3 separate regions of the Homo sapiens genome follow, and regions 2 and 3 are each reported to be linked to region 1. The links are microRNA targets in miRTarBase. Many come from high-throughput screens and were not tested one by one. Region 1 holds a microRNA gene; each other region holds the end of a gene's coding sequence.

What was found. Region 1 holds the annotated microRNA hsa-miR-6886-3p (UGCCCUUCUCUCCUCCUGCCU, at 1,550-1,570, shown strand). A microRNA usually pairs through its seed, bases 2 to 8, with sites in the 3' UTR of a target mRNA and lowers its output. Matches are read on the target gene's strand: a 7mer-m8 pairs with bases 2 to 8, a 7mer-A1 pairs with bases 2 to 7 and ends in A, and an 8mer does both.
Region 2: miRTarBase lists KNTC1 as a target of hsa-miR-6886-3p. The part of its 3' UTR that is shown has no 7-base or 8-base seed match.
Region 3: the mRNA of MRPL18 is a reported target of hsa-miR-6886-3p. Seed matches in the 3' UTR shown: 7mer-A1 at 547-553.

What each region holds. Positions count from the first base shown.
Region 1 is chr19:11,111,962-11,115,961 of GRCh38, forward strand. It overlaps MIR6886 (microRNA 6886), which reads left to right and starts at 1,513; the gene lies at 1,513-1,573. It overlaps LDLR (low density lipoprotein receptor), which reads left to right. Exons shown (of 18, transcript NM_000527.5): 9 at 1,317-1,488; 10 at 1,574-1,801.
Region 2 is chr12:122,626,016-122,630,181 of GRCh38, forward strand. KNTC1 (kinetochore associated 1) reads left to right here. Exons shown (of 64, transcript NM_014708.6): 64 at 190-381. The coding sequence ends at 213. Among named protein-coding and RNA genes, the nearest start is that of MIR9902-1, 68 kb to the right of the region's middle.
Region 3 is chr6:159,797,826-159,801,991 of GRCh38, forward strand. MRPL18 (mitochondrial ribosomal protein L18) reads left to right here. Exons shown (of 4, transcript NM_014161.5): 4 at 227-604. The coding sequence ends at 298. It overlaps PNLDC1 (PARN like ribonuclease domain containing exonuclease 1), which reads left to right and starts at 2,451. Exons shown (of 19, transcript NM_001271862.2): 1 at 2,451-2,558; 2 at 2,947-3,004; 3 at 3,288-3,361. The coding sequence starts at 2,483.

The DNA of each region.
Region 1 (4,000 bases):
TGCCACACACCTGTGGTCCCAGCTACTCAGAAGGCTGAGGCGGGAGGATTGCTTGAGGGCAGGAGGATTGGTTGATCCTCCCACCTCAGCCTCCGGAGTAGCTGGGACCTCAGGTGCATGCCACTATGCCTGGCTAATTTTCTTTTTTCTTTTTTTTTTTTTTTCGAGACGGAGTCTCGCTCTGTTGCCCAGGCTGGAGTGCAGTGGCAGGATCTCGGCTCACTGCAAGCTCCGCCTCCCGGGTTCACGCCATTCTCCTGCCTCAGCCTCCCCAGTAGCTGGGACTACAGGAGCCCGCCACTGCACCAGGCCAATTTTTTTGTATTTTTAGTAGAGACGGGGTTTCACTGTGTTAGCCAGGATGGTCTCGATCTCCTGACTTCGTGATCCGCCCACCTCGGCCTTCCAAAGTGCTCGGATTACAGGCGTGAGCCACTGCGCCCAGCCGCTAATTTTCATATTTTTAGTAAAAACAGGGTTTCACCATGTTGGCCAGGCTAGTCTTGAACTCCTGAACCCAAGTGATCCTCCTGCCTTGGCCTCCCAAAGTGCTGGGATTACAGACACCACACCTGGCTATTATTATTTTTTAGAGACAGGGTGCTGCTCTATCTTCCAGCCTGTAGTGCAGTGCAGCCTCCATCATAGCTCGCTGCAGCCTTGACCTCCTGGGTTCACGTGATCGTCCCGCCTAAGCCTCTGGAGGAGCTGGGAGTACTGGCATGTGCCACCATGCCTGGTTAATTTTTTTTTTTTTTTTTTTGAGACAGAGTCTCATTCTGTCACCCAGGCTGGAGTGCGGTGGTGCGATCTTGGCTTACTGAAACCTCCACCTCCCAGGTTCCAGCAATTCTCCTGCCTCACCCTTCTGAGTAGCTGGGATTACAGGTTCCGGCTACCAAACCTGGCTAGTTTTTGTATGTTTAGTAGAGACAGGGTTTCACCATGTTGGTGAGGCTGGTCTCGATTCTCCCGCCTCAGCCTCCCAAAGTGCTGGGATTACAGGCTTGAGCCACCGTGCCTGGCTTTTTTTTTTTTTTTTTTTTTTGTGGCAATAAGGTCTCATTGTCTTGCCCAGGCTAGCCTTATGCTCCTAGCCTCAAGTGATCCTCCTCCCTCAGCCTCCCAAAGTGCTGGGATTACAGGTGGGCGCCACTGTGCCTGTTCCCGTTGGGAGGTCTTTTCCACCCTCTTTTTCTGGGTGCCTCCTCTGGCTCAGCCGCACCCTGCAGGATGACACAAGGGGATGGGGAGGCACTCTTGGTTCCATCGACGGGTCCCCTCTGACCCCCTGACCTCGCTCCCCGGACCCCCAGGCTCCATCGCCTACCTCTTCTTCACCAACCGGCACGAGGTCAGGAAGATGACGCTGGACCGGAGCGAGTACACCAGCCTCATCCCCAACCTGAGGAACGTGGTCGCTCTGGACACGGAGGTGGCCAGCAATAGAATCTACTGGTCTGACCTGTCCCAGAGAATGATCTGCAGGTGAGCGTCGCCCCTGCCTGCAGCCTTGGCCCGCAGGTGAGATGAGGGCTCCTGGCGCTGATGCCCTTCTCTCCTCCTGCCTCAGCACCCAGCTTGACAGAGCCCACGGCGTCTCTTCCTATGACACCGTCATCAGCAGAGACATCCAGGCCCCCGACGGGCTGGCTGTGGACTGGATCCACAGCAACATCTACTGGACCGACTCTGTCCTGGGCACTGTCTCTGTTGCGGATACCAAGGGCGTGAAGAGGAAAACGTTATTCAGGGAGAACGGCTCCAAGCCAAGGGCCATCGTGGTGGATCCTGTTCATGGGTGCGTATCCACGACGCTGAGGGCTGCAGAGGGAATGGAGGGAGCAGGAAGGAGCTTCAGGAACTGGTTAGTGGGCTGGGCATGGTGGCTCAAAGCACCTGTAATCCCAGCACTTTGGGAGGCCAAGGTGGGTGGATCATCAAGACCAGCCTGACCAACATGGTGAAACCTCGTCTCTACTAAAAATACAAAAATTAGCCGGGTGTGGTGGTGGGCACCTGTAATCCCAGCTGCTCGGGAGGCTGAGGCAGGAGAATCACTTGAACCTGGGAGATGGAGGTTGCAGTGAGCCAAGACAGCCCCACTGCACTCCAGCCTGGGTGACAGAGTGAGACTCCGTCTCAAAAAAAAAAAAAAAAACTAAACAAAAAACTGGTTAGTGGCTAGACAACAGGATGGTATCTTCCAAGCCCATGGCTGACTCAGCAGCTCCTGGGTCAAGACACTGTGACCTGTGTCCCCTGGCAGGAAGCATCGCCCCTGCCACCTGCCCGGTGTACTCTGTACCTGTCAGGTGACATCTGCTACCTAAGCACGTGAGAGGTGGCATTTCACAGTTTCAGTGTGGTGCTGACAACCCGGGACGCACACTGTCCTTGCAGCTACAATCAGGAGGTGAATGTTGGGTTTCCAGCAGAGAACACTGGAGAAGGCACACTTGGTGTCTGGAAGGGAAAAGCAGGGAAGAGAGCATCATCAGATGCCTGCGGGTGAAGGTGGGCCCGCTATGGCCAGCGTCCCTTTTTATTTTTATTTATTTATTTATTTGAGATGGAATCTCGCTCTGTCGCCCAGACTGTAGTGCAGTGGTGCGATCACGGCTCACTGCAAGCTCCGCCTCACAGGTTCACGCCATTCTCCTGCCTCAGCCTCCCGAGTAGCTGGGACTACAGGCACCCGCCACCACGCCCGGTTAATTTTTTGCATTTTTATTAGAGACGGGGTTTCACCGCGTTAGCCAGGATGGTCTAAATCTCCTGACCCTGTGATCCACCCGCCTCGGCCTCCCTAAGTGCTTGGATTACAAGCGTGAGCCACCACGCCCGGCCCCCTTTTTATTTTTTATTTTTTGAGACGGAGTCTCGCTCTGTCGCCCAGGCTAGATTGCAGTGGCGTGATCTCGGCTCACTGCAGCCTCCGCCTCCCAGGTTCAAGTGATTCTCCTGCCTCAACCTCCCAACTAATTAGGATTACAAGCATGTACCACCATGCCTGACTAATTTTTTGTATTTTTAGTAGAGACTGGGTTTCACCATGTTGGCTAGGCTGGTCTCGAACCCTTAGCCTCAAGTAATCTGCCTGCCTCAGCCTCCCAAACAGCGGGGATTACAGGCATGAGCCACTGTGCCCAACCCAACCCTGGATCTCTTTTAAACAAGACAATGCTCGCTGTTGCCACAGAACAATGGGTGGGGTACATGTGGCCCAGTGTGTTTGGCCACATAACTGCCAGGCCAGAGGGAAAGAGACTCTCAGACTGTCTCCACTCAGATACAAATGTGTGTGTTGTGTGCGTGTGTTCTGGTCTCATATTTGTTTGTTTTGAGACAGGGTGTCGCTCTGTCACTGAGTCTGGAGTGCAGTGGCGCAATCAGAGTTCACTGCAGCCTCAAACTCTTGGGCTCAGTTGATTCTCCCACTTCAGCCTCCCAAGTAGCTGGAACTACAGGTGAACACCACTGTGCCCAGCTAATTTATTTTATTTTTAGTAGAGATGAGGTCTCACTATGTTGCCCAGGCTGGTCTTGACCTCCTAGCCTCAAGCAATCCTCCTGCCTTGGTCTCCCAAAGTGCTGGGATTACACGTGCGAGCCATTGCGCATGGCTTGTGTTCTTGTGTTTCTTCCTTTTTCTTTCGAGATGGCGTCTCAGTCTGCCACCCAGGCTGGAGTGCAGTGGTGTGATCATAGCTCACTGTAGCCTCAACTTCCTGGGCTCAAGCAATCCTCTTGATTTCAGCCTCCCGGGCCTGGCCAGCATGGTGAAACCCCGTCTCTACTAAAAATACAAAAATGTAGCCAGGCGTGGTGGTGGGCGCCTGTAATCCCAGCTACACCAGAGGCTGAGGCAGGAGAATCGCTTGAGCCTGGAAGGTGGAGGTTGCAGCAAGCCAAGATCGTGCCACTGCACTCCAGCCTGGGCAACAGAGACAGACTCTGTCTCAAAAAAAAAAAAAAAAAACCCAAACAAGCCACATTT
Region 2 (4,166 bases), not on the chromosome of region 1:
AGGGGAGAGTATTGATTCGGGAGATAAATTTGTGGCGTTTAAAATCTGTTTCTCTCTAATCTAAAATGCCAAATAGTTTGATATGTAGATTTGTATCACTTCACTTAAGTTCTGTAGTTTATCTGACCATTTTCAATTTGAAAAACTAAGTGACTTATAAAAATCACTTCTGTGTTTCTTCCCATTTAGATGTTTCTTAGTGGATTATCGTAAATCACTGAACCTTTTTTTCAAGAAGGACAAGAATTTTGGAGTCTGCTATTAATGGACCATATTTATTACAGTTTTTAAATTGTACAATCTCTGTATTATAGCTATTTGTCTAACATTACCCCACATGTAATAAATAAAACAATATGAGCATAATTGCCCCATAAAGAACTCATGTCCTGAATTAATAAGTCTTTTCATTGCCAGTCACTTGTGCAATTTATAGAGACTATCAACTTTTTTGCACCATATATGAAGGAAACAAAGTGCAAAAAGTTTGCTCTCTCCCTTAAGAAAATTGAGTGCTTATAGCCTATGTCTTCCATATAAAAAAGTAAGAATATCAGTCTTTTTAATGTTATTCTAAGAAAATATTGGTATAATTTTAGTGGCAGAGTTTATCAGTCAGAAAAATAAAAGCCACTCTAGATATGCCAAGCAGAGAAGAATTTCATGCCAGGGATTGGCTATAAAGTTCTTCAAAAGACTGAAAGAACAGAAGGGAGGTAGAAGCGGGAGCCAGACAAAAGGGAAGAAGGGCTTTGCAGCCACAGATCAGGAGCTGCTCCGGCCCTTGGCTTGGAGCCCCGAGCCCACATTTGCCACTGAGCTGTCGGAGCTGCTGTGGCCACTGCAGTGCTCAGAAGCCCAGGAGTCTCTTTGCCAGTGCTGCTGACAACTTAACACTGCTGCTGTCCAGGCTGCCAAGCCCACCACCAAAAGAAGAAACATCTCTGCACTTTCTCCAAGCTTCTAATTTTTACCCCAGTGCCAAGAAATAGCAGAACCAAACTGGAAGCCACCTGGCTAGAAGTCTGGGAGGAGTGGTCCGCAACTGTAAACCCCCAGCACTGCAGCCGGTGGCCTAGAAAGGCGTGTGGAGCAAAAAGCCAGCACACAGAAGTGTTAATTACACCTGTTATTCTGACTTTGTAGTCCTTTGCCATACTTGCGAATAACTTAAGTGAATTTGATGTTACTGGAATTAGTTTGCCTTTATTTTGCCAGTTGAAAAAAAAGATTTCTAAAAAACTCAATGAAACATGATTCAACACAGGTTTCGAAGTAAAATAAGTCTGGATTTGAGTTCTAGTTCTATCACTTACTAGCTGTGTGGGCCTGAACAAGTTATTTAATTTCCCACAGAGAGAAACAGGGTGGTGTTGCTGTCACCCAGGCTGGAGTGTAGTGTTATGACCATAGCTCACTGCAACCCTGAACCCCTGTGCTTAAGGGATCCTCCTGCTTCAGCCTCCCGAGTATCTGGGACTACAGGCACACACCACCATGCTTTCCTGATTTTTAAATTTTTTTGTAGAGATAAGGTCTTGCTTTCTTGCCCAGGCTGGTCTTGAACTCTAGGCCTCAAGTAATCCTCCCACCTTGGCCTCCCTAAGTACTGGTATGACAGGCATGAGCCACCTTGCTTGGCCCAATTTCTCACCATCTTAATTCCCTCAAACTGAGGACAGTAAAAGTATCTACCTTCTAGTGGCAGGAGGTTTGAATCAGTTCGTATAAAGCATCTAGGCCAGGCACGGTGGCTCACGCCTATAATCCCAGCACTTTGGGAGACCATGGTGGGCAGATCATGAGGTCTGGAGATCGAGACCATCCTGGCTAACATGGTGAAACCCCATCTCTCCTAAAAATACAAAAAATTAGCCAGGCGTGGTGATGCATGCCTGTAATCCCAGCTTCTCAGGGGGCTGAGGTGGGAGAATCACTTGAACCCAGCAGGCAGAGGTTGCAGTGAGCAGAGATCATGCCACTGCACTCCAGCCTGGATGATAGGGCAAGGGCAAGACTCTGTCTAAAAAGAAAAAAAAAAAAAAAATGCGTCTAGCACAGTACCCGAGTGCCAAAAATGCTAGTTATTACGAGTATATAGGCTTCTATTTAGCTAATTGCAAGTTTTTAAATTGCAGTTTCAATAATAAAATTATTTTACACTTTGAAGGTGTTATACTGTTTCTCCACAATAATTAGTTTAAAAATGCAAGTTACTTAATTTGCAATGATATTTTAATGACGTTTGACCTATATTTAAAACATTGTCCAATAACTATTTACATAGGTCTTAGACAGACTTCTAAAGATCATATCATAACAAATAAGAATAGTTGGGCTGGCCGGGCATGGTGGCTCACTCCTGTAATCCCAGCACTTTGGGAGGCTGAGGCAGGTGGATCACCTGAGGTCAGGAGTTCGAGACCAGCCTGGCCAACATGGTGAAACCCCGTCTCTACTAAAAGTACAAAAAATAGCCAGGTGTGGTGGCAGGCACCTGTAATCCCAGCTACTTGGGAGGCTGAGGCAGGAGAATTGCTTGAACCCAGGAGGTGGATGCTTCAGTGAGCCAAGATCAAGCCACTATACTCCAGCCTGGGCAACAGAGTGAGACTCCATCTCAAAAAAAAAAAAAAAATAGCTGGGCTGGGCATGGTGGCTCATACCTGTAATCCCAGCACTTAGGGAGGACTAAGTTAGCGGATTGCTTAAGCCCAGGAGTTCGAGACCAGACTGGGCAACATAGTGAAACCTTGTCTCTACTAAAAACTAAAAAACAACAACAAAAAAATTGACCTGGCATGGTGGTGTGCGCCTGAAGTCACAGCTACTTGGGAGGCTGAAGTGGGAGGATGGCTTGAGGCCAGGAGGCAGAGATTGCAGTGAGCCAAGATTGTGCCACTGCACTCCAGCCTGGGTGACAGTGAACCCCTGTCTCAAAATAAAAATAATAATACAAATAAATACACCATAGAAAAAAATACAAAGGGCTTTTTTCCTCCCCACTAGAGATGGAGTCTTGCTCTATCACCCAGGCTGGAGTGCAGTGAAGCAATCATAGCTCACTGCAGCCTCAAACTCCTGAGCTCAAGCAATCCTGTTGCCTCAGCCTCTTGAGTAGCTGGGACCATACAGGTGCATGTCACCACACTCAGCCAATTTTTTTTTTTTTTTTTGTAGAGCTAGGACCTTGGTATGCTGCCCAGGCTGGTCTCAAACTCCTGGCCTCAGGCAATCTTCCTGAGTTGCTGGGATTAGAGATGTGAACCACTGTGCATGGCCCAAAGGGCTTTGGAACATGTGAAAAGAAAACCTCCCTAATGCTAATAAAAATGCAAATTAAAACTACCTTAGATTCCATTTTTTACTTGCCAGAATGGCAAAAATTAAAGTTTGATAACTGGACAAAATTATCAGAAAATTTATTCTCATATCTTGGTGGAAATTTAAATTTGTATAAGTTCTTTGGAGGACAATTTGACAATCTCTTCAAAATTACAAATATGCATACCTTTTGACCCAACTATTCCACTTCTAGGAACACACACTTGTAAGTTACTCACTATGCCATTATTCTCGGAGGAAACGTTTGGAAACAACCAAAGTACTCATCAGGAGGGGAATGTAGGCCTGGCATGATGGCTCACACCTGTTACCATAGGACTTTGGGAGGCCAAGGTGGAAGGATCACTTGAGGCCAGGAGTTTGAAACCAGTCTGGACAACATAGTAAGACCTCATCTCTACAAAGAAAAAAATTTTTTTAAAGAAGGGAATGGGCTAACTGCATGTGGCCATATACAGAATGAGGAAGTACTCAGTCCTTCTATACAAGTTTCTGGACAGACTGGCATCCTTTATTAGCCCCCCTAAAATGTGTTGGAAGACAAAATTTAGATAATGGAAGTACCTGCCTTGATTGATTGACTTAATGTAGACGGAGTCTCACTATGTTGCCCAAGCTGGCCTTGAACTCCTGAGCTCAAGCAGTCCTCCCACCTCAGCCTCCTGAGTAGCTGTCTATGATTTTATTTTTATTTATTTATTTACATATCATTTATTTATTTATTTTTGAGACAGAATCTCCTTCACCCAGGCTGAGTACAGTGGCAAAATTTTGGCTCACTGCAACCTCCGCCTTCTGGGTTCAAGTGCTTCTCGTGCCTC
Region 3 (4,166 bases), not on the chromosome of region 1:
GACATCTTGTCCATATAATATTTTGAAATGCTGCTGAACCTTGACATCTCTACATTTCCTTTTTACTTACATCATTATTAAGATCACTTTCTGAAAAACCGTTGTAGGCTGGGAAGTTAGCAAGAACAAATCAATTTATTTCTGTCTTTTGGAAGGTGAAAGTATTTTCAGCCTACTCGTGCTGCTGACTTAATCTTTTCCTTTTTTTTCTGATTTTCAAAACCAGATGAAACGACTACAAAGTGCCATGACAGAAGGTGGTGTGGTTCTACGGGAACCTCAGAGAATCTATGAATAAATGGAAGCATTAATTGTTTTGAACATGTAAATATAAATCTGTCAGCCACTACAGCCATCAAAAGAGAGCATCTGGAAGAACAGCCAGCTTGGAAGTTTTACAGCAATAATGTTGCAGTGGAATATTATTTGTAGTTAAGGTCATCCTCCTCCCCTTTCTGTTTTTTTAAATCAAGAACTACGTTCTGCCCCTCTCTTGGGCTTCAGAAGCATCTAAGAAAAGCAGTCATCAATTATAATTAACTTTCAAAGGGCAAGTCAGAAGTTGTTTATAAATTACAAAATAAAGGCATATTATGAACTCTTATTTTCTGGTTATATGACATTGTCTGAGCTCACTGTGGCAGTGGAGCACATATGAGGTTGATGTAAAGCACTTATTACTGTGTCTAGTTCATGGCGAGTGATCTCAGTGAATGACAGTTGTTTGCTGCTCGGAGTGTGGGTTGTTTTTTAAAATAGGAAATGTCAGTATCAATCTAATACTATAGAACAGTCAGTATGTGAAAATGAAAGGACCAAATGCCAACCTCACTTGGACTCTTGGTTCCCAACAGTAAGAGAAACAAATTTGAAAGAGGAAGGAGGTGGCATCAGGAGCTGAAAGCAGAGGTGGAAATGGTTGGGGTTAGTGGGCGCTCAATTTGCCATGAAGTGAACATTTTATTAGATAGGAGATGAAACTTGAAATGCATGCAAGTTAATCTAAAATTTGAGCTTGGGTAGATGGGAATCATGGCAGTTCTCTGAAAGGAGCTGATTAAGGTGTTAATTTTTGGCTATTTGATAAATGTGAGAAAAAACCTGTAGGCAGTTAAGGTGGCTTCTAGAGCATTGTTTTCCAGTTTTTTTAATGTATACCCCAATTAAATGTTTGTTTAGAAGTGAAATATGTTACTTCTGCCAATTTGAGTATTCAATGTGTTATTTTAAATGGAACACATCTGTATGAAGTATGATTTGTTCTGAGAGGTCTTCAGAATCAAATGGCTTAATAGTCCCCTTTTGCTTAATTAATGTCCCGGAGAGGCATTTAAAAGTATAATTGAAGATCGGATGCAGTGCCTCACACCTCTAATCCCACCACTTTAGGAGGCTGAAGCAGGTGGATCACTTGAGGCCAGGAATTCGAGACCAGCCTGGCCAATACGGTTTAACCCTATCTCTACTAAAAACAAAAATGAGTTGGGCGTGGTGGTGCATGCCTGTAATCCCAGCTGTTCAGAGGCTGAGGCGGGAGAATCGCTTGAACTCAGGAGGTGGAGATTGCAGAGAGCCGAGATGGCACCACTGCACTCCAGCCTGGGTGACAGAGTGAGACTGTCTCAAAAGGAAAAAATAAAGTATAACGGTAATGTTTTCTCCGCTAACCTTAAAGATTGATTTGAGCACCTCACTTTGAGGACCATAGTTCCAAAACGCTGTTCAAGTAGAAGCCTAGAATTCAAGGGAGGACACTGTAAGGAAGACCATGGACTAGTTGCACTGGAAACAGTAACAAAAGTAAAAATTAAGCTCACATGTATGTGATGATGTAGGTAGGGATTTCCGCAAGGAGTGAGTGCACGAGATAATCCCTGGGGACCAAGGATTCCTTCAATTTAATGGGCAGTTCTTGAGGCTTTGCAAAGTTTGATTGCAGGTGTGAAGACAGTGGTAAGGTGGACAGCAGAATGAGGAAAAAGATGTCCAGGGGCGTGGGAGAGGGAATGGGGACAGACATACTGGCAGTGATGGAGAAGTTGGGAAGAGGTGATTTAGAAGACCGTGAGCCGCAGCAAAGGATCTGCTTATTGCAGTTGCGTCCGGTGTTGTTCCTGCTCCGCTTTTCTGATTTCACCCTTTCTGGACTCTGTCTTCGTCTCCTGCCACGCCTCTTAACATTCTAAGTCCATGTAAATGACATTCTCACGTTAAGGGCTGCAAAGAAATTGCTGAGGAGCCAGGTAAACAGGCTTTGATTGCAATTGCAATCAAACCTCTGTAGCAAATCGTACAATTAAAACACCCGCAGGCAGGTGTGGGCGACGCCAGCAGCACACGGGGAAGCTGGGCACGTGGGGCGGAGGCAGCTGCCTGGTTTCCATGTGTGCGCCCTTTAAGACCCGGCGGCGCGACGGAAGCGCGTGGGCAGCACGTGGGCAGCACGTGATAGCGCTGGGCGACTCCGCGGAGCTGCACGGCCATGGACGTGGGCGCCGACGAGTTCGAGGAGAGCCTCCCTCTGCTGCAGGAGCTCGTCCAGGAGGCCGACTTCGTGGGTGAAGAGCCTGGGATTCGCGGCTGTGCCGGACAGAGCCCCTTGCCCCGGGCGAGCTTGAGGAGGGGGTGGCGGGACGGTTGCCAGGCCACAGGGCCTCAGAGAGGGCCTCGGGAAGGACAGGGGGGCTTCCTTCTCCAGCCCCGGGGCGGTGGGACTTTGAGCAGCAAGTACACTCCGAGCCCCACGTCCCTTGTTGGCCAGAGCCCCGTGCGCCCAGGTGCCTGGCTGCTCCTTGCCTTGGTTCCTCCATTTTCCCTTCCTGACCTCACTTGGCTTCTTGAGCGCAGAGGTGAGCGCGGGTGCCTTGGCCGCCTGCAGATCTACAGTGTGAGGAGTGCTGGCGATGTTCTGCACCCGAGGACTGCTATTTTTTGCCTTCCTGGCAGGTCTGGACATAGAGTTCACGGGCCTTCGTTCTAACCTGTCTGGGCCCCAGCAGATCAGGTAAAACTAAAGCTGTGTCCCCTCTGTATAAGAGCCTGGCCAGACCAGCACTGTTTCTGGCCAGCAGCCTGTTGGCATTTGGGGGGCAGGACGTTTTGTGTGGCTTGCTCCTACGTGTTGGAGGACCTTGCTTTTTTCTGTCCACTAAATGATGGTAGTGCTCCCTAGTTGTTGTAACAAGGAAAAAATCCTCCCCGGTTGCGAGTGGTGGTCCTGCCGCGGAGGCCATAGTGCCGGGATGGGATGTCATTGCTCGTGGAATGAGATGCCTGTTTGTTCACAGTCTTTTTGATTTGCCATCGGAGTGGTATCTAAAGACCCGTCAGAGTGTTCAGCAATTTACAGTCTGTCAGATTGGTGAGTTTAATATCAGCTGTTAGAGTTTTTCAAGAAGGTATTTTTATTGTCCTTGGATTTCCTACTGTAAAAACAGCTCTGAGATTTTTCAAGGATATTGAGTATCGTTTTGTATGCTTGTTTTGTGTTGGGCCATTGTATACATATGGAAATCAACACTTCGGAGCAAACCAAATTTAGCAGCATTGTTTCCGTGCTTAAATAAGTCAGTATTAAGGAACACTCACTGTTACTCTTTCAAGTAAAACTGTGTGTGTGCGATTTTTATTTTATTTTTTGAGACAGGGTCTTGCTCTGTCACCAAGACTGGAGTGCAGTAGCATAGTCTTAGCTCACTGCAGCCTAGACTTCCTGGGCTCAAGTGATACTAGCACGTCAGCCTCCTGAGTAAACTGGGACTACAGGCTCACCACCACACCTAGCTAATTTTTAAATTTTTTGTTCAGATGGGTTTTCGTCATGTTGGCCAGGCTGTTCTTGACTTCCTGGGCTCGAGCAATCTTTCTGCCTCTGCCTCTCAAAGTGATGGAATTATAAGCGTGAGCAACCACACCTGGCCTGTGATTTTTTTTTCTTAAGAAAATTTACACACAAAAATAATTTTTTTTAAGGTCATCTCAGTTTCAGAAACTTTTTTTTTTTCCTTGATGGGATTTGGAGATCTTTCTGTATCGGTTCATACAGATCTATTTGTTGATTTAGTTATTAGTTTATTTTCTGAGATGGAGTCTCGCTCTGTTGCCCAGGCTGGAGTGCAGTAGCGCGATGTGGGCTCACCGCAACCTCCACCACCCAGGTTCGGGTG